6 separate regions of the Homo sapiens genome follow, and regions 1, 2, 4, 5 and 6 are each linked to region 3. The links come from fine-mapping of genetic effects on gene expression. A gene starts in region 3. Each other region holds a variant in brackets. All regions are shown on one strand. Distances are between the middles of the regions.

What was found. PIP is the estimated chance that this variant, and not a neighbour inherited with it, causes the effect. A credible set is the group of variants that fine-mapping cannot tell apart.
Region 1: its variant is the best candidate, but not a certain one, in a credible set for the expression of ESYT2 in whole blood (TOPMed, PIP 0.62).
Region 2: its variant is the best candidate, but not a certain one, in a credible set for the expression of ESYT2 in macrophages (Nedelec 2016, PIP 0.73).
Region 4: its variant is the best candidate, but not a certain one, in a credible set for the expression of ESYT2 in whole blood (INTERVAL, PIP 0.86).
Region 5: its variant is the best candidate, but not a certain one, in a credible set for the expression of ESYT2 in whole blood (INTERVAL, PIP 0.86).
Region 6: its variant is the best candidate, but not a certain one, in a credible set for the expression of ESYT2 in whole blood (INTERVAL, PIP 0.58).

The regions. Positions count from the first base shown.
Region 1 is chr7:158,635,596-158,640,668 of GRCh38, forward strand. The region is part of intron 27 of NCAPG2 (non-SMC condensin II complex subunit G2); the gene reads right to left. Among named protein-coding and RNA genes, the nearest start is that of MIR5707, 47 kb to the left of the region's middle. The variant C/T (reference allele first, on the strand shown) is at 2,417.
Region 2 is chr7:158,745,406-158,750,478 of GRCh38, forward strand. ESYT2 (extended synaptotagmin 2) reads right to left here. Exons shown (of 23, transcript NM_001367773.1): 15 at 4,244-4,318; 16 at 2,789-2,875. Among named protein-coding and RNA genes, the nearest start is that of NCAPG2, 43 kb to the left of the region's middle. The variant G/A (reference allele first, on the strand shown) is at 1,942.
Region 3 is chr7:158,826,955-158,832,027 of GRCh38, forward strand. It overlaps ESYT2 (extended synaptotagmin 2), which reads right to left and starts at 2,555. Exons shown (of 23, transcript NM_001367773.1): 1 at 2,135-2,555. The coding sequence starts at 2,464. RefSeq lists enhancers at 1,329-1,398, 3,409-3,518 and silencers at 1,519-1,718, 1,799-1,848, 1,939-2,128, 2,179-2,278, 2,369-3,098.
Region 4 is chr7:158,795,105-158,800,177 of GRCh38, forward strand. ESYT2 (extended synaptotagmin 2) reads right to left here. Exons shown (of 23, transcript NM_001367773.1): 2 at 3,927-3,968; 3 at 2,838-2,972. Among named protein-coding and RNA genes, the nearest start is that of ESYT2, 32 kb to the right of the region's middle. RefSeq lists an enhancer at 1,776-2,275. The variant A/G (reference allele first, on the strand shown) is at 3,116.
Region 5 is chr7:158,726,008-158,731,080 of GRCh38, forward strand. It overlaps ESYT2 (extended synaptotagmin 2), which reads right to left. Exons shown (of 23, transcript NM_001367773.1): 23 at 4,990-5,073. Among named protein-coding and RNA genes, the nearest start is that of NCAPG2, 24 kb to the left of the region's middle. The variant A/AC (reference allele first, on the strand shown) is at 2,910.
Region 6 is chr7:158,734,838-158,739,901 of GRCh38, forward strand. It overlaps ESYT2 (extended synaptotagmin 2), which reads right to left. Exons shown (of 23, transcript NM_001367773.1): 19 at 4,186-4,284; 20 at 2,211-2,342; 21 at 666-771. Among named protein-coding and RNA genes, the nearest start is that of NCAPG2, 33 kb to the left of the region's middle. RefSeq lists an enhancer at 1-209. The variant A/C (reference allele first, on the strand shown) is at 2,716.

The sequences.
Region 1 (5,073 bases), 190 kb before region 3:
TTTAAATGCACCAGTGCATGGGCAAATGCATGTTGTTTCTCCTCAGAAAATGTCCAGTTTACAATATGCTATATCGGATGAGGCAATTAAAATGCAATGAGATGCCGATTTTTATTTAGCACCCAAAAGACAGACCAGTCAACAGAATACTAGCCCTGAAAACTAGATTAGTTGTTAAGAAAACGTGCACTTTTAAATCAAGCTCCACTGCCTAAAATATTAATTGGAGCAAGGGGTTCCCAGATTCTTAAAGATGTTTACTTGCTTTAATGTCTCTAGTCCAACGTTAAATCAATAATATTTTAAAATACAGTCTTAAATCTTAATTGTTTATCTTCCGTTAGATTGATTTTTCTTGTTTCATCAATTTGTCAGATTGATTTTTTTAGACACTGGTTTTTCTATAGTTTGCTTCTTGCATATTTAAGTAAGAAGCCAATATTTCACAGTCCTGACCTATTTATTTTCTAGGATGTTTCCTTCTTAAAGGGAGGAGCTCTTTTTTTCATCTGTGTATCATCTTAGTAGAGGGGATGGCATGCAGGTGAATAATGGAGAAACAAAACGCTCCATCCCCAGTGTTCTGTTCATGTCCTTTTCCACATTGTAAGTTCTGAATTTCTCAGGTCTTTTCTTCTCTCAATGTAACTAACATAATTCAAGTAGTTAGCCTGAAACTAAGTATAAGTGGAAATGGAAGGCATTCCTAGTGAGAAACCAATGTTCCTCTTCCCTTTCATCTTCAGAATAGTATACACTATTCTATATCCAAATAAGCCTTCCTTGGCAACATTATTTCTTTTTTTCTTTTTTTTTTTTTTTTGAGATGGAGTTTCACTCTTAATGCCCAGGCTGGAGTGCAATGGCTCGATCTGGGCTCACCGCAACCTCTGCCTTCCGGGTTCAAGTGATTCTCCTGCCTCAGCCTCCCAAGTAGCTGAGATTACAGGCATGTGCCACCATACCCAGCTAATTTTTGTACTTTTAGTAGAGACGGGGTTTCTCCATGTTGGTCAGGCTGGACTTGAACTCCCGACCTCAGGTGATCTGCCTGCCTCAGCCTCCCAAAGTGCTGGGATTACAGGCATAAGCCACTGTGCCCGGCCAACATTATTTCTAATAAAGAAAAATGCTTAGACTTTTGAGGTTGTTACTACATCCTGTGAAAACAATTTAACATTCTTACAGTTGGTAATTCTGGTCATCTTGTTTAATATTTGTGCCTGATGGACCATTTACATCATTGCCACTTATTTTCTGAAATGGACAAGTGCTCCTCTGTCATCCCCAAATCAGACCACTGCCCTAAAAACAAGCTCCTAAGGCCAATAGTCTATTGGGTTTCCTCTTCTTCTTCTTCTTTTTTTTTTGAGACGGAGCCCTGCTCTGTCACCCAGGCTGGAATGCAGTGGTGTGATCTTGGCTCACTGCAAGTTCCGCCTCCCGGGTTCATGCCATTCTCCTGCCTCAGCCTCCCGAGCAGCTGGGACTACAGGCGCCCGCCACCATGCCCGGCTAATTTTTTATATTTTTAGTAGAGACGGGGTTTCACCGTGTTAGCCAGGATGGTCTCGATCTCCTGACCTCGTGATCCACCTGCCTTGGCCTCCCAAAGTGCTGAGAGGGTTTCTTCTTAAAATATAAAGTTGCAAAGTCTAACCTGATTAAAACTAGCATAGTGGACACTCAATCATTTTTAGAATAAAGTACATAATTGAATGCATTTCATTCACTCAGTCGCTAGGAGCCCAAACCCACCCACCTGCTTTAGTGCCCAGTTCAACGTCCCATCACCGTGGGGTGCTGGAAGGTCACTGGGGAAGGAGGGGACTTTCTCCAGGTTTCCGTAAGGCCCCCCTTTCTCCAGCAGACTCTGACAGCACAAGCAGCACACCAGACAACTACCCCACAAGCCCCCACCCCATCCGAGCCACACACAGGAGCCTGTGGGACTCAAGAGAGTAGGCTTTCCAGCTCCGGCTCCAGCAGCTCCCCAGCACCTCCCCTGCGATGGCTCCACATCCCCCCGGCCCACCACCCACCCAGGTGAGTGGACGTCCTCAGGTCCCACAGAAGGCCGCTAACAATTTCTTCCACGTAGGAAGCCAGGTCTCCCTGTCCGGGTGGGGGCTCCTTCCTTGGCGGCGCTCACCTAGGGTTGGAGGTGTTCTCTTCATCTGCTAGTCCTGTATTCTCTAGAGTTCTCTTTAACTCTCACTAGCCAATAACCCATCGTGCCAACTCCCTATAAAAATCCCTGACACTTGGCTGGGCACGGTGGCTCACCCCTGTAATCCCAGCACTTTGGGAGGCCGAGGCGGGCGGATCACTTGAGGCCAGGAGTTCAAGACCAGCCTGGCCAACATGGTGAAACTCCGTCTCTACTAAAAATACAAAAATTAGCCGGGCATGGTGG[C/T]GCATGCCTGTAATCCCAGCTACTCGGGAGGCTGATGCACAAGAATTACTTGAACCTGGGAGGCAAAGGTTGCAGTGAGCCAAGATCGCACCACTGCACTACAGCCTGCATAACAGAGGGAGACTCTTGTCTCAAAAACAAACAAAAAAATCCCTGACACTGAGCTTTCCCTATCCGAATCACTGCGTGGTTTTGGTCTTCTCCTGGAACCTGACAAACACACAGAAAAACATTGTTTTTTGTTTGTTTGCTTTTGAGACAAGTCTTGCTCTGTTGCCAAGACTGGAGTGCGGTGGCGCAATCTCAACCCACTGCAACCTCCACCTCAAGCAATCCTCCCACCTCAGCTGTCCATGTAGCTGGGACTATAGGCACATGCTACCACACCTGTCTAATATTTGTATTTTTTGTAGAGATGAGGTCTCGCTGTGTTGCTCAAACTGGTCTTGAACCCCTGAGCTCAAGCAATCCACCCACCTTAGCCTCCCATAGTGTTGGGATTACAGACGCGAGCCACCATGCCCAGCCAACATTGTTATCTCAGTACCTGACAAAGTGGAGTAAAGAGAGACCCTTTATTAAAATAAAAGGGTCAATTAATCAAGAACATACAGCAGTTCTAAACTTATATGCACCTAATAACAGGGCCATAAAATATATAATGCAAAAGCAGTCCTAAATATGATACTTGGACAAATTCACAAGCATAATGAGAAATTTAACACAAGTCTCTGTAGAATAAGTAACAAAAAATCAGTAAAAACATAGAAAAGTTGAGGTAACACAATTAACGAACGTGAACTGATCAGGTGGCACTCCACCTCTCTAAAACACACACTCCTATGCACAAGCACTCACAAATGCTGTGTGTGAGCCACAGAGCCAGTCTCAGACGTACAATCAAAAAAGACAAAAAAGAAATGGTGTTAAAAGCCACAGTAAACATAAACCTCATATCAAGTATAAAACCACACACACTTTGCTCTTCATCCGGACAATGCCCAAAATTATACTGAGGTATTGGGGTGGGCTGATACCTTCAAACAGGGAGAGAGGGACCATGTTCAGGAGGTGTATTCCTCGATTTAGGTGGTGACTGAATTTTTTTTTTTTTAAGACAGGGTCTCACTCTGTCACCCAGGCTGGAATGCAGTGACGTGATCTCGGCTCACTGCAGCATCAACCTCCTGGGCTCAAGTGATCCTCCCACCTCAGCCTCTTGGGTAGCTGGGACCACAGGTGAGTGCCACAATATCCAACTAATTTCTATATTTTTTGTAGAGACAGGGTTTTGCCACATTGCCCAGGCTGGTTGCGAACTCCTAGACTCAAGCAATTCACCTGCCTTGGCCTCCCAAAGTGCTGGGATTACAGCTGTAAGCCACCGCACCTGGCTTGTGAGTGCATTTTATAACAATTAATTCAGTGGTACACATATTATTTACATTCTTTTCCATATGTATATCTCAATGAGTAAATTCTATTCTATTAAAATCAATAAACAAAAACCACAAGCCATTTTGTTAATAAATTTAAAAATCTAGACCAATGCAAGAAATTGTAAATTACCAAAATTTATTCAGGCAGTAATAGGAAATCAGACCCAACTACTAACATAGAAGAAACAGGGAAAAGTCATCCCAGATTTCTGGGGGTATGTTGTTCCACAGCATCAGATGTGATTTAAACTGCTCCACAACACTGAAAAGGGAGAAGTTACCAACTAATGCTGAGAGCAAAACTGGTAGAGGTCCTACTGAAAAAACAAAAACAAAACACTACAAAACAAAACAACCAACAACCATTTAATCTTATTTCAAACCTAATGCAAACATTCTCAAATAAAATATTAGCAAACAGAATTCAAAAATGCAGCTGTTTTGATAGAATGAAATATCCAAGACCTGTGAGACAACTGTAAAAGGTGTTAACATGTATAATAAGAATTTCAGAAGAGAGAAAGGAACAGAAGAAATATTCAGACAATAATAACTGAGAATTTATCCAGGAAGCTCATAGAATACTGAATAGAATAAATGCCAAAAAAAAAAAAAAAAAAGAAAAGAAAACTACACCTAGGCATATCATATTCAACCTACAGAAAAATCAAACAAAGAAAAAGTATTGAAAGAAACCAGATAGGGAAAAATACACCTTATCTACTGAGGAGCAAAAAAGAATTATATCCTATTTCTCAGATACTACACGAGCCAAGAAGAGAGTATAGCGAAATGTTTAAAGTACAGAGAGTGGCCGGGCACGGGGAGTAATCCCAGCAATTTGAGAAGCTGAGGCGAGTAGATCACTTGAGATCAAGAATTCGAGACCAGCCTGGGCAACATGGTGAAGCCCTGTCTCCACTAATACAAAAATGAGCTGGGTGTGGCGGCGATGTGCCTGTATACCAGCTACTCAGCAGGCTGAGGTACAAGAATCGTTTGAACTTAGGAGGCAGAGGTTGCAGTGAACTGAGATCACACCACTGCGTTCCACCCTAGGCAACAGAGCAAGACTCTGTCTCAAAAAATAATAATAATAAATTAAATAAAGTACAGAGAGAAAAAAATTCATCAACTAGAATTATAAACTACATAACATTATCCCTGCAAAGAAATAAAGTAGAAGTAAAAGACTCTCTGACAAACCAAAATTAAGAG
Region 2 (5,073 bases), 82 kb before region 3:
ATTTAAACGCCATGCTCTTCATACCTGATATAAGTAGTCTGAGAACTAGTAAGGCCCCAGAGGGCCTGAGCAATGGCAATGCCACCAACCACCCTGACCTACTGACATTCATGAGACACTCGCCAACACCAGAAAGGCACACAGCCTACAGGTGCACGTGGAGTGTGTCCCAGGACAGGCAGTGCTCTGGGCCATAAAGCCGGTCTCAAACATAAAAGGGCTCATGTCATACAAAGTATGTACTCTGACCACTATGGAATGAAATTGGAATCAATAATAGAAAGATTAAAAAAAAATCCCCAAACATATGGAAACTAAATAACAGACCAAAATAACCCATACACAGGTCAAAGGAAAAAACTGAAAGGGAAATTAAGGAAATAATAATAATCAAAAGGAGACATCAACGACAAGTCAAAATTTGTGAGATGTAGCTACAGAATTTAAAGTGAAATTTATTGGAGTAAATGCCTACATTATAAAAACAGAAATGTCTCAAGCTTCTTCTTTAAGAAACTAGAAAAAGAGAAGCAAAGACCCAAAGTAAGTGGGACTGAAATAATAATGATCATAGTAGAAATCAATGAAATAGTAAAAGAAAAGCAATAATGACAATTAAACAAAAAATTGGTTAAGAAAATAAAATCAATAAACATCTTGTAAGACTTATTAGGAAGAAGAAGAGAGAAGACAGGCCAGGCATGATGGCTCACGTCTGTAATCCCAGCACTTTGAGAGGCCAAGGTGGATAGATGGCTTGAGCTCAGGAGTTCGAGACCAGCCTGGGCAATGTGGTGAAACCGCATCTTTACATACATAAATAGACACACACACACACACACACACACACGCCCCTCCAACACACAAAAATTAGCTGGGTATGGTGGCATGCACATGTAGTCCCAGCCACTTGGGAGGCTGAGGCACACATACACACATACCCAAAACACAAAAATTAGCTGGGTGTGGTGGTGTGCACCTCTAGTCCCAGCCACTTGGGAGGCTGAGGCGGGAGGATTGCTTGAGCCTAAGAGGTCAAGGCTGCAGTGAGCCATGACTGCACCACTGCACTCCAGCCTGAGTGACAAAGTGAGACCCTGCCTCAAGAAAAAAAAAAAAAAAGATTAATAAAGCACCAATAATAAAGACAGTGTGATACTGGCATAAAGACAGACATATAGAACAATGGAACAGAAGGAATTCCAGAAACAGACCTATACATATGGGCAACTGAATTTCTGGAAAGTTGCTAAGCTAATAAATTAGGGCAAATAATAATCTTTTCAACAAAGACTGAACAACTGCACAAATGCTGAACAACTACACAGCCATATTAAGAAAAAGAGGCTGGGCACCGTGGCTCACAACTGCAATCCCAGCACTTGGGGAAGCAGAAGTGGGAACATCGCTGCTCGAGCCCAGGAGTCTGCGACCAGTCTGGGCAACACTGTGAGACCCTACAAAAAATAAAATAATTCTCTACAAAAAATAAAAAAATTAGCCAGGCATGGTGGTGTCTGCCTGTAGTCCCAGCTACTCCGGAGGCTGAGGCAAGAGAATCACTTGAACCCAGGAGTTGGAGGCTGCAGTGATCTGTGATTACACCACTGCACTCCAGCCTGGGTAACAGAGTGAAACTCTGTTCTCAAAAACAAAGAGGCGGGGTGCGTTGGCTCACGCCTGTAATCCCAGCACGTTGGGAGGCCACAGTGGGCGGATCAGCTGAGGTCAGGAGTTCAAGGCCAAGCCTGGCCAACATGGTGAAACCCCGTCTCCACTAAAAATACAAGAAATCAGCCAGGTGTGGTGGCGCGCACCTGTAATCCCAGCTCTCAGGAGGCTGAGGCAAGAGAATCACTTGAACCCAGGAGGTGGAGGCTGCAGTGACTGAGATCGCACCACTGCACTCCAGCCTCCATGACAGAGTGAGACTTCATCTCA[G/A]AAAGAATGAAACATTAAAAAAAAAACCCCAAACGTCTTACAAACTCAGTATTAAGAAGACAAATAACCAAATAAAAAAGACAGGCAAAAAAACTGAATAGACATTTCACCATAGAAGATACAAAGACCGTAAAAAAGCATAAAAAGGTGCTCAACGTCATTAGTAATGACGCTGAAACCACCCGGTAATACTCCTATCTACCCACTAACACCACAGCACTGGCGAGATGTGGGGCCCGCTCGACTCACATGCACTTCGGTGGGAATGTGACACGGCACAATCTCTTTGGAAAACAATTTGGCAGTTTATTAAGAAGCTAAACATGAACCTGGCAACCTGCTCCTGGGCATTTTACCCAACAGAATGAAGGCATATGTACACACAGTCTTGTATGTGATATTCACAGCAGATTTATATGTAATAGGTCTAAACCGGAAAGAACCCAATCTTTTATCAATGTCTTACTCACAGGTAAATGGATGAGCAAATTGTGGTATATCCATAACTACTACTCAACAATAAAAAAAGACAAACTGTGGGTATCTGCAACAACACAGGTAAACCTCAGAATAATTATCACCAGAGAATATAGACAACTAGAGGACATACCGCATAATTCTATTTGTATAAAATCCTGGAAAATGTGAACAGTAATCTACAGTGACCAAAGGCAGGTCTGTGTTTGCCTGGGGCTAGGGGAGGCCCGGGTTACAGAGAGATCTACCAATTGTCCTGATTCTGGCGATGGATCCCCAGGTGTATACACGGGTCACAACTCAGCAAATTGTATACTTTAAAAAGTCAATTATTTGTCAATAAATTGGTTAAAAAATGCAAATAAAATACCTCAACTTCAAGGTCCTGGCGCTTGGGATTGTGAATGAAGAAAGTGAAGTTTTCCTCCCACACAGGTTCATTGGTTTTGTATCGAATCTAGAAGAAATATCCAAATTATTAGCTCTGATATTTTCTGTGGAAAAGGGCTACTCATTTTATGTGTTTAGAAGCTTAGAATGAAAAATAAAAAGAAAATAAATAAAACAAAAAACTAGAAGCTTAGGTTGACCTTAATTAAATTCCAAGACATGTATTTGCAGGTATGCACTATTATGTATTGATGGTGGATGTGTTGAAAAGATAACGAGACGGTCTAAAGCCTTTAGAGTTTGTCATGAGGCCCCAACCTGTGCGCCCACAGATAAAGGCTTCGTGTGCGTGGCCTGGCCTCGGTTCTGTAATGACTTTTGCACCAACGTAATAGCTCCTCCGAACTGAGGAGGGTGAGCACTTGGGCACGTCTCTTAAACTGTTCACAATTCAGTGAGTGATGACCTGTAACTTCGGGCAATTTCTTTCTTTTTTTTTTTATTTTTTATTTTTTTTTGGTAGGGGGGACAGAGTCTTGCTCTGTCGCCAGGCTGGAGTGCAGTGGCGCAATCTCAGCTCACTGCAACCTCCACCTTCCGGGTTCAAGCAATTCCCCTGCTGCAGCCTCCCAAGTAGCTGGGATTACAGGCACGTGCCACCATGCCCAGCTAATTTTTTTTCTCCTGTAAGGAAAGTAGAACATATTACAGCAATATGTAATAGCCATACCCTCTTTTCAAGTCGTAATTCTAACTGTATTGGTTGAATTTTAAGCACTGTTGGTTTTCTTTTAAACTATTTATAGAGTGCTCAAGACAAACTTAGGAATTGTTCCCATGTGTCTACTCATAAAATCAAGCAAAAACATATTCATCTATTACTTTCTAATGTTATTTTTGTTTTGTTTTTTGAGACAGAGTCTTGCTCTGTCACCCAGGCTGAAGTGCAGTAGTGCAATCTCGGCTCACTGCAACCTCTGCCTCCCGGGTTCAAGCGATTCTCCTGCCTCAGCCTCCCGAGTAGCTGGGATTACAGGCACCCGGCACCGCACCCGGCACCATGCCCGACTAAGTTTTGTATTTTTAGTAGAGATGAGGTTTCACCGTATTGGCCAGGCTGGTCTCGAACTCCTGACCTCAAGGGATCTCCCTGCCTCGGCCTCCCAAATTGTGGGGATTACAGGTAGGAGCCACCACACCTAGCCACTGAAGTCATTTTAAAAAATGAACAGTATATTTCTTGGTATTTCAAGTAGCTGGTTATCTATATCAAATGACTGATCTAAGAAAAAATAGATCTGAAAAGCCCTGGTCTCGATGCCCACGCTATCACACAACTGAATGTATTTGCAACCCGGCATCCCCAGGTGAGACGGCAACACGGACAGCGCCCGCACGACAGGCACCAAGGCTGAGTCCAGGGCGAGCACCTTACCTTGCTCTCCTGGGCCTTGTGCCCAACTGACATCTGGACAACAGGATTTGGGTTGCTGCTTATTTTCTTCCCTGACTACCCAAAACAAACAGAAAACAGACAAAATAAATAAACACATTTTAAATGGGTCTTAACTAAAAATGAAATTACTGGCTTATATTAGTAGTCATTTTTATTTATCTCTGATATTTAAGGGAATATCTGGGAACAATTTAATGGGAAAACATAAGCTACACACACCCCAAACCATAACTACAAAACTTTCATTTGCACACAAATTTTAAAGGTTAGAGTCTGGTATTTTTAAAGCCAACTACTTTGGAAAACTGAATCTTCTAAAAATTCTTAATGTTAATCACACTTTTCGAAAGTTCTTTTATTTACAAGGATAACGAAAATGAATAAAGTGCAATTAATGAAAACCAAAAATCATTAAAAGACAAATGTAAAAGAACGTAAAATTCAGAATATTTCTCTGGCGGGAATAAAAATAGTACAGAGTGTCAGATACACGGTTTTATGTTCTCAACTTAGCGTCTTCTGTTTGAGCATTTTTAAGCTTTCACATATCAAATCTTGCTTACCAGCTGCTAAATAATTTTGACTGGAAGAATAATCATCAGTTTAGAATCATATTAAATTAAGCAGATATAAATATGAAGAAAAAATTCAGGACTAGGAAAAACGGTAAGAAGTACACACTAGCACAGATAGTTGATAGGAGAAAATAGTAAAGCAGCAGATACGTGTGACATGAGGTTTATTTATAACTTAGCCCCACAAGAAGATGCAGTTAAATATCTGTGTTAGTGGAAATTAATTAGAAGGTC
Region 3 (5,073 bases):
GAGTTTGAGACCAGCCTGGCCAACATGGTGAAACCCTGTTTCTACTAAAAATACAAAGATTAGCTGGGCGTGATGGTGCACGCCTGTAATCCCAGCTACTCGGGAGGCTGAGGCAGGAGAATCTTTTGAACCCTGGAGGCGGAGGTTGTAGTGAGCCGAGATCACGCCATTGCACTCCAGCCTGGGCAACAGGGAGAGGCTCTGTCTCAAAAAAAAAAAAAAAAGAAAAGAAAAAGAAAATCTGTGTTTCACAAAGATTTTTAACAAGCAAATTTGATATTAGCCAATAACCAAGTATCTATGAAAGTCAGCATCATCACTTCCTGCAAATTTCAGCACTGATAACATTGCTATGTTATCAATATAACATAGCAATGGATGCTAATGGACTCTGTTTTTAGCTACTTTTTAGTATTATGCATCTTAGTGTAATATAGACACAAAACGTCACTTTAAAGTCCTTTTCCATTTCCAAAGTGCACCTCCTCTGTTCTTAGTTTTCCCCACCTCGGTTCCTCTTAACTTCCTTTTTCTACACACCCCTCGGTTTTTCCCGCCGCTAGCTAAAAGCTGCACCATGCCAGTTACCTTGGTTCTCCAAATATGACTCCCTCATGCTCACCACGCATCGGCAGAACTGTACATTCCCAAGCTCCTTACATTATATTCTTACTCCAGTTGCAATATGACGTCACAAAGTAGCATCTACTACCTTCTTCTTGTCTTGGGCACGCCTCCTTTCTAATTCTTGTTTGCCATCTGTGTCATGCCTTACTTCTCAGGTGTCTCATGACTGGAAACAGGGACTTTTCTCCTCTAAGAGAAAATGACCCTTCCGAAACCCACTGCTGGTCACCTTCACCCCAAAGTTTATATTAAGCCTAATGGAAGAATCATTAAAATCCTTTCTTGCAGTGTGAAACTGTGAAGCCAAGTCATGGCTAAGAAAGAATTAGGGAATGACAAGAAAAAGATTTGAAGCCAACTCTTCGTGTCTATAGTCCATAAATATACGAGGTAGAGAACTGCCGGGTTAAAAATAAAATAATACCATGACTCTTGTTATTGCTGCAACTCTTCCAAAACTTCCTGCCACACACACACACATTCACACTGGATTCAGGTCGATCCCATATAAAAATGCTCAGTCTCACAATTATACTTGCAAAAAAACTGAAACAATCTTTCAATTATCTAATATCTCCACATCTTTCGAGAGACACTTACTGCCCTTGAAATGCGTCAGAAACAACCAAGACACGAGTGCGTCTTCTCCCGGTAGAAGAAAAAGTTAACTTCTCCCCCACCAGCTGTCATTACGTTTTTTAAAAAACAGAGAGAAGGAAAAGCTGAAGCCACCCGGAGCATTTCCAGGCCGGCAGGGCTTTGGGAATGCGCACGAGAATCGCGCTGGGCGCTCTGAGAGCAGAACCGGCCGCTCAGGCCCCTAAGGAGACCCCGCGGGCGGCACCAGGAGGAAGCGCGCGCTCCGGGCAGGGCCGCGGCCGAAGAGGGGGCGCCAAGCCCGGTACCTGCCGCTGGCGCTCGGGGTCTGCAGGCCGGGGGAGGGAAGCGGGCTTTGTGAAGAGGGGTCTCCGAGAAAGCCGCGCGGGACGGCGAGGGGAGGCTTCACGAGGGCAGACGCGCCCCGGACCCGGAGCCTGGGCGGGCGGGGAAGCGGAGAAGGGGACGCCCGACTTGGACGGAGGGAGGGCACGGAGCACTCAGGACTAGGGCGGGAGCGGCGAGCAGCGGGCGGCGGCCCCAGGCGGACAGGTTCGCAGGGAGTGGGCCGGAGGCCGGGGCGGGGCTGGGGTCTGCACTCGCCCTAGCGGGCAGGTCGCCAGCAGGCTGGGAGTCGGGGCCGGGGGGCGGGGCGGGGTCTGCACTCACCTAGGTTGGCAGGTCGCAGGAACCGGCCCGGGGGCCGGGGCTGGGGTCTGCACTCGCCCAGGCGGAAGGGAAGCGCCTGCCTGGACCGGGGTGGGTGGGGGACTACGAAGGCGGGAGCCGGGGCAGGGCTGGGGTCTGCACTCACCCAGGCGGCAGGTCGCGGGGAGGGGAGTGCCTGCCTGGACGAGGGGAGATCGGGACTGGTGGTCAGGGGTCGGGACGGGCAGGGGTCTGCACTCACCCAGGCGGGCAGGTCGCAGGCGCGCACCCCCAGGCGCACGACGCGCTCCTCGTCTTCCAGCAGCGCCAGCGCGCGGCACAGGCGCAGGGCCTTGAGGCCGCGGCTGCGGCGACACCAGGCGAGCAGCGCGAGCGCGAGGAGAACCCAGCTGAAGCTGAGCCCCAGGTAGCCCAGCGCGTACACGGGCAGCAGCAGCGCGAAGCTCCGCGCCAGCTGCGCCAGCAGCCCGGGCAGCTCCACGCTCAGCACGCCCCCGGGGTTCTCAGGCGCCGCGCGGCCCCCAGCCCCGCCGGCGCCCGCCTCCGGGCCCTCGCCCCGGGCGCCGCTCATCGCCCCGCAGTGCCGCGCTGCCCTCCCGGCCGAGGCGGGCTGGGTGCTCGCGCTGATCCCGGGCGGCTCAGCCCCGCGCCAGCGCCCCTCTGAGGGGACGCGGCTCCGCCGCACGCCCGCCTCCGCCCGGGACGGTGGCGTCATCACGCGGGGCGGGAGCGGCGTGGGCCTGGGGCTGGCACGTCACCGGGAGCGGGCGGGGTGGATACTGACGTCATCGCGCGGGGCGGGCCGTGGGCCGGGTCGGAGACTACTGGAGTGGGCCGGGCAGGCGCACGACGTCATCACGCGAGCGTTGTGTCTCGGCTGGCGGGAGCCGGGGACGGGAAAGGAGAGTGCTCGGTGCGTGGGCTGGGCGTGCCTGCGTCCCCTCGAGCCCCACGGGGCACCCTCCCCACTTGCCTGTGGCCTCGGAGCCCGCGGGCGGTTTTGGCTCGGCGTCGCGCCCCGAGGCGGCTTCCGGGTGCGTGGCTGCGCTCGCCGAGGCCCGGGAAGTTGCCGTCGTCAAACCCAAAGGCTGACCGCCTCTGGGAGCTGCTGGCAAACGTGGGGGTGCGCGGCCGCTGAGCGCAGCCGGGGTGGCGGTGGGATGAGAGGGCGGCGTCCCTGTTTGCGGTCATTTTGCGGCCAGGAGGACGGGTGAGAGGGCGCCGCCCGCCGGAGGTCGGACGGGCGCCGCTGGCGGGAGTCCTCCGGTATTTTTCGGTGTGAGGTTGCCTAGCCAGTGTGCAAGGTTGTGGCTTTTGCGGAGTCTCTCGGGACGGTCTTGTTATCGGGCATTCCGGCGTGAGAACGCTGCCTCTGGGGCCCTTCCCACCCTGCTTGTCAGGGTTTTAAACACAAACGACTCCGTTGTGACCTTGACAACTCTCACACAGTTCAGTTGGCTTTTAAGATGCCTTTAATCCCAAAAGTCCTCCCTGAGGGGTCTGGTAGTGCCGGGCAAAGACCACCGCAAGCGCCCAAGGGACGCTGTTGACACTCGGGAACTCCACCCCGGGCACCACGCAGCTTCGCCGAAGGTGTTAATATTGTGGCCAACTATGAATAGCTGTTTCAAACGACTAATTTTGGGCCTTTCCTGTGATTCCTGAGGTCACTTTTCAGTTAACTCAAAAACACAACTATTGATCACTTTACTTTCCAGTGAATTCAATCGAGTTAATTATATTTGTTCTGTAGTTTCTTTCAAGGAAACTCCAAGCCAAACAGTAGCAAAGAACATCCTACTTGACTGTTTTTGAGCATATTCAGTGAATTCCAAGGAAATTTTTACTGAATTTGTAACAGAGTAGGGCACTGGCAGGTACTGAATGAATAAACAAATGCCCAGAAGAAGCAGGGTCACCTTTACATAGGAATCTGTCTCCCCTCGTTCCTGCGTCTTCATAATTTTGTGTGCATATGTATGTGGAGATTATATCACATATGTAAAACATTGCAGAGTCTAAACTCTCAACTCCAGGCAAGGGCAGTAAACCCCAAGCAAGGAATGGAAGTGGTTTCCCTTTTCTTACTCTTCACAGTCCCTGGTTTGCTGCAGCAACAAATTATATTATGTAGATTGTAAATATGCAACCGGTTAATGCTCCTAACACCACCTTTCATTCAAAACTAAGCCTCAACACAAAAGCAAGTAATTGCTTTGTTGACACAGAAAGGAGCCTGAGCCTTTCTTTTGCAGCTTTCCTCTACTGGAAAATTGTAGGATCACATCCTACAAAGACTTGCATAAACATAAGCCACGTAAAAAATTCTGTAATCCCAGCACTTTGGGAGGCCGAGGAGGGCAGATCACGAGGTCAGGAGATCAAGACCATCCTGGCCAACATGGTGAAACCCCGTCTCTACTAAAAATAACAAAAAATTAGCCGCGCATGGCGGCGCGCACCTGGAGTCCCAGCTACTCGGGAGGCTGAGGCAGGAGAATTACTTGAACCCGGGAGGCGGAGGTTGCAGTGAGTCGAGATCGCACCACTGCACTCCAGCCTGGGCGACAGAGCAAGACTACGTCTCAAGAAAAAAAAAAAAATCCTGTGCCATGTGCCATCCAGTGGTTGACCCAAGGATGTAAACTAGATTGAAGAGAAGTTTCCATGTTGCATACCAGTCAGCCCAAGTGTCCTCAGCTTCCCTCTGTGTGAGCCCCGGGTTTCCAGCCCCTCCCTGTGGTTAATTGCCTGCAGAAAGCAGATCCTAAGGCTCTGCCACAGCTCAGTCTTACAGGTGTCTGGTCTGACTGCAGGTCCAGCTCGGCTCTTAGATTTTTGCTAATATTATACCCCTCAATCTCCTGTGACCTTTCATGACCCCTCCATCCTTTCCTTCTTGTAGACAAGGAGAAGTGCTGCTTTCTCTGGAGTGTCATTCCGAGTGCTCCGGTGCACAGCTGCGAAGTTCCAGCCTTCCTGGTTTCAGAGGAAAGTGCTATCTTGTGCTTAGGTTCAACTCTTCCTGCTTTTGGGTCCTCCCCCACACCTCTAAATACGTCTCGTTATGGAGGGTGGGAGCACGTGCTCTGCATCTCTTCAATTTGGAGGTTATACCAGCAAATTAAATATACTGGGGACAGTGAAAGCCAGGTTTCTTGCTGTTGGAGAAGGTAAAAA
Region 4 (5,073 bases), 32 kb before region 3:
GAAGGACAAACACCAGAAGGCAACATTGCCCAGCTGCCGGGAGTCTTGGTCAGCACACAGTCTGGCCAAGGACCCTGCACAGGACTCCACATGCCATTCTATCCATCCCTTCATCAGAAAGCCTGGGTTTGACACTTGTAAGACATTGGTACAGTAGATGAAAATGCCAAAGCTATCTTTATTGAATCAGCACTCCTCTTAATACTCTTGCTATTCTCCAAGGATTTCCTTATTCAGCTGGTATCAAACTTAAAGTGTGTGTGATGGAACTCAAACATAATTAAATTATTCCTAAAATAAACCCAGCTGAGATGGAATTTTAAATATCCACAAACACGAACATGCTGTAACTTAGGGCATAACAGGCTAAATGTGCCTTTGGCCTGACTCTACAGCCCTGGAGCTAGTATGGTTTTCACCTGGCTAAAGGGCTGTAGAAGAAGGGAGGGAGAGACAGCAGGACAATGCAGCCCCTGCGGCCACGTACAGACAGAGCATGCAGCCCCTGCGGCCATGTACAGACAGAGCATGCAGCCCCTGCTTTACAGCATTTAACTTGTCACTGGGACTTTAACCTGCACTCACATGGCACTTTAACTTGTAATTGTGTTTTTTCCCATCTGTGGTTACCATTTTAGGTGTTGAAGGTAAAGTCAACACTGAAAGTGTCCTACAGGCGTCCCGTGTAGAGACATGGGCTCGTCCTACGGGCGTCCTGTGTAGAGACATGGACTCTTGCACAGGATGGCCACACCTCAGGCATGTCACAGGAAAAGCAGCAGCACATACAGGCAGGTGTCACACGTAAGGCTGCACAGGAGGCACGGGGTCTGGAGTAACTGCTTCTGAGACAGAGCATTCTCTGCACACAGAAAGTCAGCTCTGATGGAGAAAGGTAGCCAGCAGCCTGGAGATCATGGGGTGTACACTGGTGCCCACTAACAGGTGGCAAATACACAGTGACCATGCCAGACCCTCCCACAGCCACATCTATCACAACCCTGAACCGCACTGCACGGGGATGTCTGTTTGCTGACTCTGCTGTGTGTGCAACAACGTGTGCAGACTGTGTGTGTGTTTACAAGAACTATCACGTTCTGAGTCTTTAGGCATATAAAACAATGTTACCTTGGACTGTTGCTACTTAAACACTGATTTAAAAATAGAAAAAGAAAAACTTCCCATGATCAACTAAATGTACTCTTGAGGCTTTTATGAAAGGTGGTATTAGGAAGTATCAGCTTTCCTTTTTATATAATGTGACTCCATTAACAAAATCCATCTTTTCTTCCACTTACGTAATGAATGTTGTACCTAACATACCAGCATTAGAGTCATTAGTAGTTTTGTTTTTTAACATCCCGAGAGGGGTAAACACCTTAAACTTGTCAATTACTGCACATTTAGCATGAATTCACATATCAAACTCGCTCACAGGAAAGACTACTTAAAACTAGTGCTTCCGAAAAGGGCGTGCTGACAGAAGAACGTGGAGCAGAAAGACACGTGGTGGAGAAAAAGTCAGTGTTAAAGAGAAGCCATGAGACGGAGGCTGACATGGCCAAGACGGCACCGCGGACAAGAAGGCAGCAGGATGGCCTCCCGGCAGATGGGAAGGGGCAGTGCGGGCGAGAGGGAAGCAGGACGGTCTCCCAGGAGAGACGGGAAAAGGCACCGCGGCGGGAGGCAGAGCCTGAGTGACAGACAGGAAGGGGCACTGCAGGCGAGAGGGCAACAAGACAGCCTCCCAACAGACAGGAAAGGGCACTGCAGGCGAGTGGGCAGCCGGAAGGCCTCCCGACAGAGACGGGAAAAGGCACCACGGCTGGAGGCAGAGCCTGAGTGACAGAGACAGGAAGGGGCACCACAGGCGAGAGGGCAGCAGGACAGCCTCCCGACAGACGGGAAAGGGCACTGCAGGCGAGAGGGCAGCAGGACAGCCTCCCGACAGAGACGGGAAAAGGCACCACGGCTGGAGGCAGAGCCTGAGTGAGAAACGCACCCGGTAGACCTTGGTGAACAATTTTCTTCAGAACATAATTTGAAGCTGTCTGTTTTTTGAAATAGGGTCTCGCTCTGTCACTCAGGCTGGAATGCCGTAGTGTGATCATGGCTCACTGCACTCTCCACCTCCTGGGGCTCAAGTGATCCTCCTGCCTCAGCCTTCTATGTAGTTCTGACCATATACGTGCACCACCACACCCAGCTAACTTTTAAATTTTTTTGTAGAGACGGAGTCCCACTTTGTTGCCCAGGCTGGTCTCAAACTCTTAAGCTCAGGCCTCCCAAAGTGCTGGGGTCACAAGCATGAGCCACTGCTTCCAGCTGAAGTTGTTTAAAAAACATATACCCAGCTAGCTGGGAGGCTGAGGCAGGAAGATCACTTGAGCCTAGGAGTCTGAGGCCAGGGAGGGCAACATAGTGAGGCCCCGTCTGAAAAAAAAAAATTTAAAAGAAAATGTGTTTTTCGGCCAGGCGCGGTGGCTCACACCTGTAGTCCCAGCACTTTGGGAGGCTGAAGCAGGCAGATCATGAGGTCAGGAGATCGAGACCATCCTGGTAACATGGTGAAACCCCGTCTCTACTAAAAATACAAAAAATTAGCCGGGCGTGGTGGAGGGCGCCTGTAGTCCCAGCTACTCGGGAGGCTGAGGCAGGAGAATAGTGTGAACCTGGGAGGCAGAGTTTGCAGTGAGCCAAGATAGTGCCACTGCACTCCAGCCTGGGCAACAGAGCGAGACTCCGTCTCAAGAAAAAAAAAAAAAGAAAATGTGTTGTTTTGTGTTTTCACAGCAATCTGACTGTGTGCACGTGAGGATACTTAAGAGAACACTGACCTGCTGGCCCACGTCGACCTTCGTGAAACTAAAGGTGCTAAGGTGGGTGTTTGCTCCCCGCACGGCTGGTTCTATAGTTTCTCGAAACAACTTCTCTATAAATTGGCAAATGAAAGGCCACATGTGTTTTACAGTCTGGAAAGGAAAAAGAACTCAGTTTAAACAAAATGCTATATAATGCATGACACACACGAGTGCTCGTGAGAAACCCTCGCAACAGACCAAACCTGGTTTTGAAAATAAAGGGCGGGAGGATCTTGTTGTTATGCAAAATCAAC[A/G]TGATCTAAATTCTAAAAAGTTATTAGAAAAACCAACTACTGATTAACCAATATGTTGCAGGAACTAGTTATTCTGGTTAAATATGTCAGCACATTTAAAGATTTCTAGAAGTCCTGTGGTTTCAACTTGGTGCTGAAAACAACATTAATATTTATATAGTTCTTCAATTGTAATCCCAGCATTTGGGAGGCTGAAGCGGGTGGATCATCTGAGGTCGGGAGTTTGAGACCAGCCTGACCAACATGGAGAAACTCCATCTCTACTAAAAATACAAAATTAGCCAGGCGTGGTGGTGCGTGCCTGTAATCCCAGCTACTCGGGAGGCTGAGGCAGGAGAATCACTTGAACCCAAGAGGTGGAGGTTGTGGTGAACCGAGATCATGCCATTGCACTCCAGCCTGGGCAACAAGAGTGAAGCTCCGTCTCAAAAAAAAAAAAAAAAAAAAAAAAAAAAGACTGTTATTGATTATTGAATTTCTTGTAAGTTATTTCTTTCTTTGTCATGTTTTTTAAAACTTATGATTGTTATAAAATAGACTTGAGCCCTGGCTGTTCAGAAAAGAAGACACATGGCCAGAGACACAAATATGCACATGCCTATACTTTTCTCAAGTCAAAGAGACAGTTCTCACTCTCTGGAAAGAAAAGAAATGCATTTGTTGTGACTGAGGTCTTTGGGGACCAGAAGCCAACCCACTAAAGTCCAAACGAGCTCAAATATTACCAACATGCAAATCCCCAAATATGGAAAGATGGTATCTCATCCTCCAATTCCACTGATGGATGGTAGTTGGTATACTCTAATCTTACCTTATTTAGCCATTCTGCTCTTTCAGTGTCTGGAAAATGAACCTAGGAGGAAAATACACACATATGACTTATTAACTCCCAACAACTGTAAATAAAATGTCAAGCAGGCAATTTCATATTCTCATCATACGTCCTATGTTTACAAGATGCTTCTTTAAAACACTCTGCTCTAAAGCTTGGGAAACTGGTCTCCAAGGAGGGAAAGTGAAATGCATGGCACCCCAGCTCTTTACGTTCTGAGAACACAATGAGCAAAAAAGTTGTGTGTGGAAAATGCCATCAGAGTCTTCTCTGCACCCCACTGTCCAGAGGAAATTCACTGGAATCTGAAACATCATAAATTATACAAAACTGACCTCTACCTTTTTAAAAAAACATGTTTCTAATTTGTCAGTAGTATTATCATCATGTCCTGGCAATCTAGGCTCAGAGCCCCTACCCTTCCCAGGCCAGCCGTGGTGGCCCAAACCTGCAAGTCCCAGGTACTCAGGAGGCTGAGGTAGGAGGATCCCTTGAGCCCAGGAGCTTGTCTGCAATGTGCTACAACCATGCCTGTGATTAGTGCTGCACCCTAGTCTGGACAACATAATGAGACTCCATAAAATAAAGTAACAAAATATAAACTAAAATAAAATTCACTCTTCCCTTTTGCTTTTCTCTTTTGGCCCAAACCAGCTAAGAGACACCTTTCCTTACATGGCTCCTCTCCATACCATCATCTCCCACCTTCACCCAGATAGGGATCCCTCTTACAATTCTCCAGGTAGGGCCTGGATACTGGAGAAGGGTTTGTACAGGAGAAAAGAAACCTATTTAGGGCCAGGCATGGTGGCTCATGCCTGTAACCCCAACACTTTGGGAGGCTGAGGATTACTTAAAGCCAGCAGTTCAAGACCAGCCTGGCCAACATATTCTTGCAAACCTCTTTTCTATGCGTTTATAAGCATGTATAACTTACATTAGACATGTTTCTATACACATTTGCATATGCGTATGATATTTTTAAGACTATGTGGCCTCTTAATTTTTTTTTTTTTTTGAGACAGAGTCTCACTGTCACCAGGCTGGAGTGCAGTGGCGCGATCTCGGCTCACTGCAACCTCCGCCTCCCGGGTTCAAGTGATTCTCCTACCTCAGCCTCCTGAGT
Region 5 (5,073 bases), 100 kb before region 3:
TGAATCTGGACATTTAAGATAATATACTCCAGCCTGGCCAACATGGTGAAACCCCGTCTCTACTAAAAATACAAAAATTAGCCGGGCATGGTGGTGGGCGCCTGTAGTCCCAGCTACTCGGGAGGCTGAGGTAGAAGAATTGCTTGAACCCAGGAGGTGGAGGTTGTGGTGAGCCAAGATGGCACCACTGCACTCCAGCCTGGCAACAGTGCAAGACTCATCTAAAAAAAAAATAAAAAAAAATAAAGATAATATAGTGTGGCAACTCTGTAGACAAGATCCCTCTTCCACTCCTGGCTTTGTTGTTGATGATGGTTGTCACTGTTGTTTCTTTGTGTTTAGTAACATACTTGGACTCTCTAGAAGCTGTGTTGTCACATGCTGCCTCTGAAGCCTCTGCTGGGTTAGCTCACGTGCCAGCTAAGGATTGGAAAGGACTTCTTTGAATACTTCAGACCAGTTGGTCTCCCACCTGCTGCCAAGGGGCCCTGTGCATGTGCTGGGTGCCTTCAGTCTTCCAGCAGGCACCTCACAGCCAGAAATGAGAACTCTTGCAGGTCTTTCCTGGGGATGTGCACAGCCCGGCATGTGCATGTGTCTAGCACCCCAGCAATGCCAGAGTTTTACAAAGCCCTCTGTGGACAGTCTCATCCCCTAGGTTCTCCTTTCAAAGTGTTTGGTTGGCCTCTTGTTTGTCCCAACTGCTACCACTGCCTCAGGCAGCTGCAATGTTAAACAACCGCCACCGATTCTTCTGGACCAACAAACCTGGAGATGGAGTTTTCCTGGGAGCCTGAGAGTTGAAATAGTGACAATTCCCTGGGGATGGAACTTTTGGAGAGCAATAAGCTCCTTCTTTCCCCTCCAGAGGCAGCAAGGCTGCTGGTCATCTGTGCTGTTGCACTTCTAAGGCTGCTGCTGTATGACTTTTTCCATATTTTCCAATAGCTATTGGCATTACCATATACGACACAGACATTTCTACATCCAAATATTTTCCAGATTTTTTTTTTTTTTTTGGTGATGGAGTCTCACTCTGTCGCCCAGGCTGGAGTGCAGTGGCATGATCTCGTCTCACTGCAGTCTCTGCCTCCCCCAGTTCAAGTGATTCTCCTGCCTCAGCCTTCTGAGTAGCTGGGATTACAGGTGCGCACCACTATGCCCAGCTAATTTTTTGTATTTTTAGTGGAGATGGGGTTTCACCATGATGGCCAAGGTGGTTTCAAACTGCTGACCTTAAGTGATCCACCTGCCTTGGCCTCCCAAAGTACTAGGATTACAGGTGTGAGCCACCACGCCCGGCCTCCAGATTTTTATTTATTTATTTATTTTTGAGACCGAGTCTCGCTCTGTCGCCCAAGCTGGAGTGCAGTGGCGCGATCTTGGCTCACTGCAAGCTCCGCCTCCTGGGTTCAAGTGATTCTCCTGTCTCGCCCTCCCGAGTAGCTGGGACTACAGGCGTGTGCCCCCACACCTGGCCGATTTTTTTTATTTTTAGTAGAGACGGGGTTTCACCACGTTAGCCAGGATGGTCTCAATCTCCTGACCTCGTGATCTGCCCACCTCGGCCTCCCAAAGTGTTGGGATTACAGGTGTGAGCCACCACGCCCGGCCCAGATATTTTTTTTGAGACAGGGTCTTACTCTGTCGCCCACACTGAAGTGCAGTGGCACAATCATAGCTCACTGCAGCCTCCTAACCTCCTGGGCTCAAGAGATCCTCCCACCTCAGCCTCCCAAGTAGCTAGAACTGTAAGTGTGCACCCACCATGCCCAGCTAGTTTTTTTATTTTTATAGAGATGAGGTCTCACTCTGTTGCCCAGGCTGGTTTCAAACTCCTGGGCTCCACTGATCCTCCTGCTTCGGCCACCCAAAGCGTTGGGCTTACAGGTGTGAGCTGCCATGCCTGGCCTCCCGAAGCGTTGGGCTTACAGGTGTGAGCCACCGTGCCTGGCCTTCTTTGCAGAGTATTATTATTGGGATTTCCAGGTAGGCAATCTTGTATCTGAAAATGACTATCTCTTTGTAAAAATTTCCAGATAATCTTTTTTCTTTGTATTATATTGCCCAGGAAGTTGAGAATAACAGTAAATAGTTAAAGGCAGACTTCCTGGGTGTTTCCAACTTTCATGTCTCAACTGTTTCTCAGATGAGGAGGCCCTTGGCTTTTTCTCTCAATAGTATCCATCACGCTTAGCAGTATCTTCTCCTTAGTCGTCACTAACAACCGTTAGTAGGTATATATCTTTTTTTGAATGGAAACTTGTTAGACGAGATGAATTATATTTTGGTCTGCCAAACGTATTTATTTCTTGAGACAGGGTCTTGCTGTCTCACCCAGCCTGGAGTGCGGCAACGCAATCATGGCTCACTGCATCCTCGACGTCCTGGCTCCAGTGATCCTTCTTCTGCTCAGCCTCCCGAGTGGCTGGGACCATAGGCATGCGCCACCACGCCTGGCTAATTTTTGTATTTTTGGTAGAGACAGTGTTTTGCCATGTTGCCCAGGCTGCTCTTGAACTCCTGAGCTCAAGTGAACCACCTGCTTTGGCCTCCCAAAGTGCTGGGATTACAGGTGTGAGCCGTCTGCCAAACTTTATACATTTATTCAACAGATAATTGGTTTACCATGTGTCTGGAACAGTGATAGGCGACCAGTGAGTTTTAAATAAAACTCACATAATCTCTGCCCTTGAAAGTTTACAGTCCATGTAGGAAAGTTTTAAATAAAACTAAATTGTAATTACGTTAAATTTGGTGAATCAAAGTAACACAGGCCGGGATGGTGGCGTAGGCCTGTAATCCCAATACTTTGGGAGGCTGAGGTGGGGGGGATCCCTTGATCCCCCTACTGCACTCCAGCCTGGGCAACAGAGTAAGAACCTGTCTCAAAAAAAAAAAAAAAAAAA[A/AC]ACACATACACACACATGATGCTAAGAAAACTCACAGGACACCGAGATCAGCTTTCAACTGAGAAGTTACGGGGAGTGGATGTGAGCTGGGCCAGTCATGGTAAGAGCCCGCGTGGAGGTGCTGGGGAGAGGAGAGGAGAGGAGCAAGTGTGGAGGTGGGTGGGGCAGGAGCAGGTGTGGATGTGCTGGAGGGGAGGGGCAGACGTGGAGGTGCTGGGGGGAGGAGCAAGCATGGAGGTGGGGAGGTTGGAGCAAGTGTGGAGGTGGGGGGATTGGAGCAAATGTGGATGTGCTGCGGGGGAAGAGCAAGCGTGGAGGTGGGGGGGGAGGAGCAAATGTGGAGGTGCTGGGGGGAGGAGCAGGTGTGGAGATAGTGGGGGAAGAGCAAGCGTGGAGGTGTTGGGAGAAGCAAGTGTGGATGTGCAAGCGTGGAGGTGGGGGGCTTGGCGCAAGCGTGGAGGTGCTGGGGGGAGGAGCAAGGTGGAGGTTGGGACTGGAGCAAATGTGGAGGTGCTGGGGGGAGGAGCAGGTGTGGAGATAGTGGGGGAGGAGCAAGCGTGGAGGTGCTGGGGGGAGGAGCAGGTGTGGAGATAGTGGGGGAGGAGCAAGCGTGGAGGCGGGAGGGTTGGAGCAGGTGTGGAGGTGCTGTGGAAGAGGGGCAAGTGAGGATGTGCTGGCGGGGAGGAGCAAGTGTGGAGGTGGGGGCGTTGGAGCAGGTATGGAGGTGCTGGGGAGAGGGGCAAGTGTGGAGGTGCTGGGGGGGAGGAGCAAGTGTGGAGGTGCTGGGGGGGGAGGAGCAAGTGTGGAGGTGCTGGGGGGGAGGAGCAAGTGTGGAGGTGCTCGGGGGAGCAGTGTGGAGATGTTGGGGAGTTCCGAGCAGGTGTGGAGGTGCTTGCGGGGAGGAGCATGCCTGGGGGTGTTGAGTGGGAATGTGTAGGGGCCGTCTGTGGAACTGAGAGGCATTGATTGAGGTACAGTGGGTGAGGGTCCCAGAGGAAGAAGAAACACTCAGCTGCAGAAGTCAGGAAATGCTCTTGCTCTTGAACAGTGGAACACAGCTGAGTGGGAGTGATCTGTGTCTGAAAGATTCTCCTGTTGTATGGAAAATGGAGCAGGCAGGGGAGAAAGATTGAGAAATGGAGAGGGACGGTGGCTTGGACTGAGGGGACAGAGTTGAGGTGGCTACATTCTCCAGTTAGAGCTCAAGGACTTGGTGTCTGCACATGGGCTGAGGCAGTGGGAGGTGGCTGGTGCTGTCCAGGTCTCAGCTCCAGCACCAAGACGGATGATGGACAGACAGATGGACAAAGGGTGTGCCTTGAGGTGTCCATGTGACACAGAGGACGGGGATGCAGTGGGATGAACTGGTCCTGAGCTCAGACAACATCTGTATCAGTGACATACATCTGGAAACCAGGGTATTGATGGTATTAAGAACACCACATAAAAATAAAAAGTGATCAGAACCAAAACCCACATTATGCCAATTATTGAGTCTGGTTGAAGGTGAAGACAGTGTTGGAAAATGGCCAAAAATGTGCAAGGAAAATACAGAGGAAGGCGCTACAGAGGCCAAGAAGGATGGCCCACAGTCAAGGAGAAAGGAAGTGCCCGGTGTCAAAGGCCCACAGTCAAGGAGAAAGGAAGTGCCTGGTGTGAAATGCCGAGCGGCTACGAGGAAAAGCGCAAGGGCTCCACTCAAGTCGATCCAGACCACCAGTAATGAACGCAACAGGAAGGGATACTCCAGTATCACCCTCAGTGTTCCAATGTTCAGGTGTCTCGGCAGTCCCCGCTGCACTTCTCAGAGCCCTAGTTAAAAACACATTTAAAGTTTATTTTTTCTACGTATGATTATCCTTTAGAAGAGCTGTTTTTGACATGTGGAGTGTAATGTGCTGGGCAGAGGAGAGTCAAACTGAGCTGGGAACAACAGGAAGGATGTCAGCTGCTCTGACGTAGCTGCTGGGAAAACGCGAGTGCAGACAGCAAATGAAACAGTGCACGACGTCTCCTTTCAAATTATCTGACTGCACACTGAACACCTCCCTTCAAAAGACAGAGAAAAACAAATCACGACTGAGCTAACATAAAGGTTTTATTGAATAAATACATGCACTGTCACGTGAAATTAGTTGAACAGAAAGGAGGTTCTCTACTTTTT
Region 6 (5,064 bases), 92 kb before region 3:
TTACCACTTCTTCTCATCTCTCTAATCTTCTGTCTTCATCTAGGAATATGGACTCTCCCTTTTCTGAAGGCTCTTACTTTTTCAATCTTTTCTACCCCCCTGAGCACCTGTAAGCTACATCGCTGAATACATCTAAGAAATCCTTCATGCAACCAGCAGTCTTAAAATTCAGCTATGACGGAATATCAGCGGAGATGACTCACAGAAGGGTTGGCCCATGTGCCCTCCATGGCAGCACAGCTGACGAAATGATGCCCGTGACTCAAATCTCTTCCTCCCCAACTGAACCTACTCTCATTCCTAAATAACATACACTCACATGCCAAAGTGAAATGTGAAATACGGACAAAGAGTAGAAGAAATTCACATAAATAAAGCCAAAGAATTTTAGAAAAAGAGCAGAGCCATCAGTTGAGGAGATGGAATTGTAAGAGATTATTTTCCTTCAATGTGATACTTGAACAAAAATGTGAAGACTTAACTTAAAATATCTTCAGAAAGCACAGATGTTTTGACTGTCTTTATAGCCCATGATTTATAAACAAGCATCGACCTCGTAAGTTCGCCCCTTCCACTTACACAGACATGGTCTAAACACTGCACTGCAGGTAAATGTTCAATTTTACAAACTGCAGGAACTGGTTGAGGATTCGTTTGGCACTTACTTTGCCAAGGAGCCCTTTGTCTTTGGACAGGAAGCCGCCACTGTTCTTCACGGCAACGTCGAGCGTTCTCCTCTGCACTTCTGGTAACGAAACACTGAAATCAAAGCTGAAATAGGAAACGAGAGCCTTACTTTATCCATCATTCTGCTGTATTTTCTTATAACTAAAAATGGCATTTCTGCTCATGAGATCATTCCAAATGTCATGTTTGTTTTTTATTATAAAACTGAGTTCTTCTACCTAATGTTTTAATCTGGCATTTCAGGAAGACTCAAAAACCAACATTTTTTTCATTTCCCACACATAAAAGAAGGCTCTGGCATCCCATAGATGTCTGGGTCCCAAGGTCCCTGGCTCACTCACGGGTGGGTGAGGAGCGTCTCTCAACATGTCTGACTCTTCCAGGGGATTAAAATGTGGGATAATGTTGACAAAACAGCAATTCCAGAGCAGCCCACTCACTCAGGCTTTCCACTCAGTCTGGTTTAGTCTTCAGGCCCTATTCCCACCATCTCCAATAAAAAAAAGTATGTGCTTGCAGCTTCGCAGGAGGGAGAAGGCCTCCAAAGCACTCCCGATGCTCAGCCAGACGCTGCACTAAAGTGCCTGCAGGGCGTCTCTCCTCCGGGCTGCGGGTGCCTGCCCCAGGCCACCGTGCTGGGGGGCAAGTGGAGTCTCCAGACGCTTAAATGCCTCGGATGGGTAGGAGCACCCTGCACAACCTCATCGGGCTGATGCACGCCTGCCAGTTTCTGATGGGTGTTTTACATAAAGCTACTTGTATGAAAGTACAATGAATGAGGAGGATGTTTAAAGATGAAACGTAAACTGAATTAGCAGATAGCGACACCATACAACTGTATTATTATCATTTCCCAAAACAAGGGTGGGTTTTGAAGCACTAGGGGACAATCACCTAAGATACCAAAATGGTACAGATTAGCAGCTCTTTAAAAGTGGGGGCCAATGACCCCTGGGGGTGTCTCTGAGACCCTCCTAGGAGGTCACCAAATCACCCTGACCACAGAAGCAGGCTCCAGCCCCTCTTGAGCCAGACCACTAAAGAGATGAGCAAAAATGCTGAACAATAATACCATTCTTTTCATTATGTTTTTTATTTTTGGAAATACAGTTGTTTTTCCAATATGTCATACGGTAAGATGTTTGGGGCTTACTGTTATTTAAAAATAAAATTAAAAATATATGTATCCTTAAATTCTCAGTTTTAATTGATAACATAGTTAAGTGTCAACAGATATAACCCCCAAAAATGAGTTCTTCAGGGCCATCAGTAACCTGATCTTTATTTAATCACTAGTCTACATGTCCACAGGGTTGTAACTTGAATTTACTGTATTTAGAGCTTCTACATGAAGGTCAAAATGCTTATTTGTTTTGAGAAGTATGTTTGCTAAAAGTTGGTTTCTGATTGAACTTCTCAACAGCTGATTTATGTGCTTTGGCCACTCAAAGGCACCATTTAGGGCCTTCTTAATCCGTCACTTCAACCGGGCAGTCTATCCTCAGCTGGATAAAATACCGTACCTTTGATCAAACACTGGATTTAATGTTTTCTTTGACACGTGTGTTTTCCTCCTTCCTGACCGCCTCTTGTCTGGTAATAAATACATGCGGACATAGGGGTCAGAGCCGTCTTCAGAGAAGGCAATGAGGTTTCTTACAACACAAACCAGATAAGACGAGGTATTAGGACCGAGAAAAAGAGAATGAGCAGCACATTCAGATATGCTTTATCAAGCTTTGATTTCATGTTTATCTACAAACCGAGAAGCAACAAGGAACAGAATGCGTGAGGCGCTTTTGCCTCCCCCGACGGCTGCCTGGTGGCATCTCCCAAACTCCTTTCTTAGTGGCTTTCTCAGCAGCGACTTCGGCCTTCATTTCTCAAGCCCAGAGTTTGGAGGACGTTCCAAGTCCTTGGTCTCTGCTTGTAACAGAGTGACGGTTGTCTTTCCATAATGCTTCTGCCATTTTCTCTCTCACAGCCAAGAAAGCCAGGCCCCCACCCCACAGTGCCTACCCCTCCAGA[A/C]GGGGGCTGCTCCTTTGCAGCAAACGCGGTCAGGTGCCCAGCTGCACAGGCCCCCACATTCTTCGCTTGCTGACTGACCACAAAGTCTAGGAGGGATTGTTTTGCTAGACTCCTCTACAACAGTATCCCCCACGATCATTATCTAAGTGGCAAGAATATATGAACTTCTCAAGAGTGATGTACTGAACTCTACATTTTTATCATCTTTCTAAATGGTGCTAATTTTATTTTCCTATGTTTCCAACAGCTATTTATAAGCACCAAATTTTTATATCATATTTTAAACCACTAATAGGACAGAGAAAATTGCATAAAAGGAAAATAGTTCGTAAGCCCACAGTATCATTGTTAACAAATGCAATTAATGCAACAGTCACCTGACTTTATACTTATTAATATAACAAACAAGTTAAAATAAATTCTTCCTGATTAGGCCAGTCATGGTGGCTCAAGTCTATAATCCCAGTGCTTTGGGAGGCCAGGAATTAGAGACCAGCGTCTCCATAAAAAAATTAAAAATTAGCCAGGCCTGGTGGCTTCCACCTATAGTCCCAGCTACTCAGGAGGCCTGGCCAACATGGTGAAACCCCGTGTCTACTAAAAATACAAGTTAGTCGGACGAGGTAGTGCACGCCTGTAATCCCACCTACTCGGGTGGCTGAGGCAGGAGAATTGCTTGAACCCAAGAAGCGGAAGTTGCAGTAAGATGAGATTGTGCCACTGCACTCCAGCCTGGGGGACAAAGTAAAACTCTGTCTCCAAAAAAAAAAAAAAATACACACACACACACAGACACACACACACACACACACACACACACACACACTCTTCCTGCTCTAGGCTACACATTTGTACAGTATGCTACTGTGCTGAATACTGTAGGCAATTGTGACATATTTGTGTATTTTTTTTTCTTTTTGAGACAAAGTTTCGCTCTTGTTGCCCAGGCTGGAGTGCAATGGCACGATCTTGGCTCACAGCAACCTCTGCCTCCTGGGTTCAAGTGATTCTCCTGCATCAGCCTCCCTAGTAGCTGGGATTACAGGCATGCACCACCACACGTGGCTAGTTTGTATTTTTAGTAGAGACAGGGTTTCTCCATTTTGGTCAGGCTGGTCTCGAACTCCAGACCTCAGGTGATCTGCCCACCTCAGCCTCCCAAAGTGCTGGGATTACAGGCGTGAGCCACCATGCCAAGCCATATTTGTGTATTTAAACACATAAAAGGTACAGTAAAAATACAGTATGATCTTAGGGGACCGTTGTACTTCGGTGACCAAAACGTTGTCATGTGACATACGCAGTGGTGACACCCTTTACGAGCACCGTCTCTAGAGGTTTAATTGCTTTGTCCTTTCTAAATGAAACATAAATGGATGTTTGGAAATCCTAAAGGCGGTGTCTACATCATCCTATCCAGCATCCACACTCAGCAGCACAGCAGCGGGCGCGTGGGACCCCAGCCCCCACCTGCAGGCATGCACGACCACGATAAGCTTGTTTCTCTGCGAGCTGTGCCGGATGGTCAGCTGGATCTGCCCCAGTGGAGACTGTCCCAGGGTCGTCCCGCTGTGGGAAAAGAGCAGAAAGTCACCAGCTTGCCTGAGACTGGAGAACGTTGTGATTCATTGGTCCACTGTACACGATAAAATAATTTCTATTCATTTAGACAAAAAGAAGTCAAATTACCCATGAACTTAAACATAATTTGAAACTTCTGGGTACAAGTCAAACAGATGAATATTTTACTTGAGGGTTCAATATAAATTAATTATTCAAAACTGACATTATTTCTTTTGTTTTTGTTTTTTGAGACGGAGTTTCACTCTTGTTGCCTAGGCTGGAGTGCAATGGCGCAATCTTGGCTCACTGTAACCTCCGCCTCCTGGGTTCAAGCGATTCTCCTGCCTCAGCCTCCTGAGTAGCTGGGATTACAGGCGCCCGCCACCACGCCCAGCTAATTTTTTGTATTTTTAGTAGAGATGGGGTTTCACCATGTTGGCCAGGCTGGTCTCAAATTCCTGACCTCAGGTGATCCACCTGCCTCGGCCTCCCAAAGTGCTGGGATTACAGGCGTGAGCCATCGCGTCCAGCCAACTGACAGTTTTTTAGTTAGGGTCCTGAAAACTAAAAGTAAAATCCTAAGCCCCCACCCCACTCCCATGTGAGTGGACCCAGGGGACCCCAGAGAAACTTAAACACTGAGTTCCTGACCACAACAGGACGGGAGGTTATTTATACCCCCCCCTTCGCAGTTCAGATGCAACAACCGACTGGCATTAATGCTGCAGCAGAGATCGTTAAGACTGAAGGAACAGATTCCTTGCGGCAGTAAGATACCAAGCTACA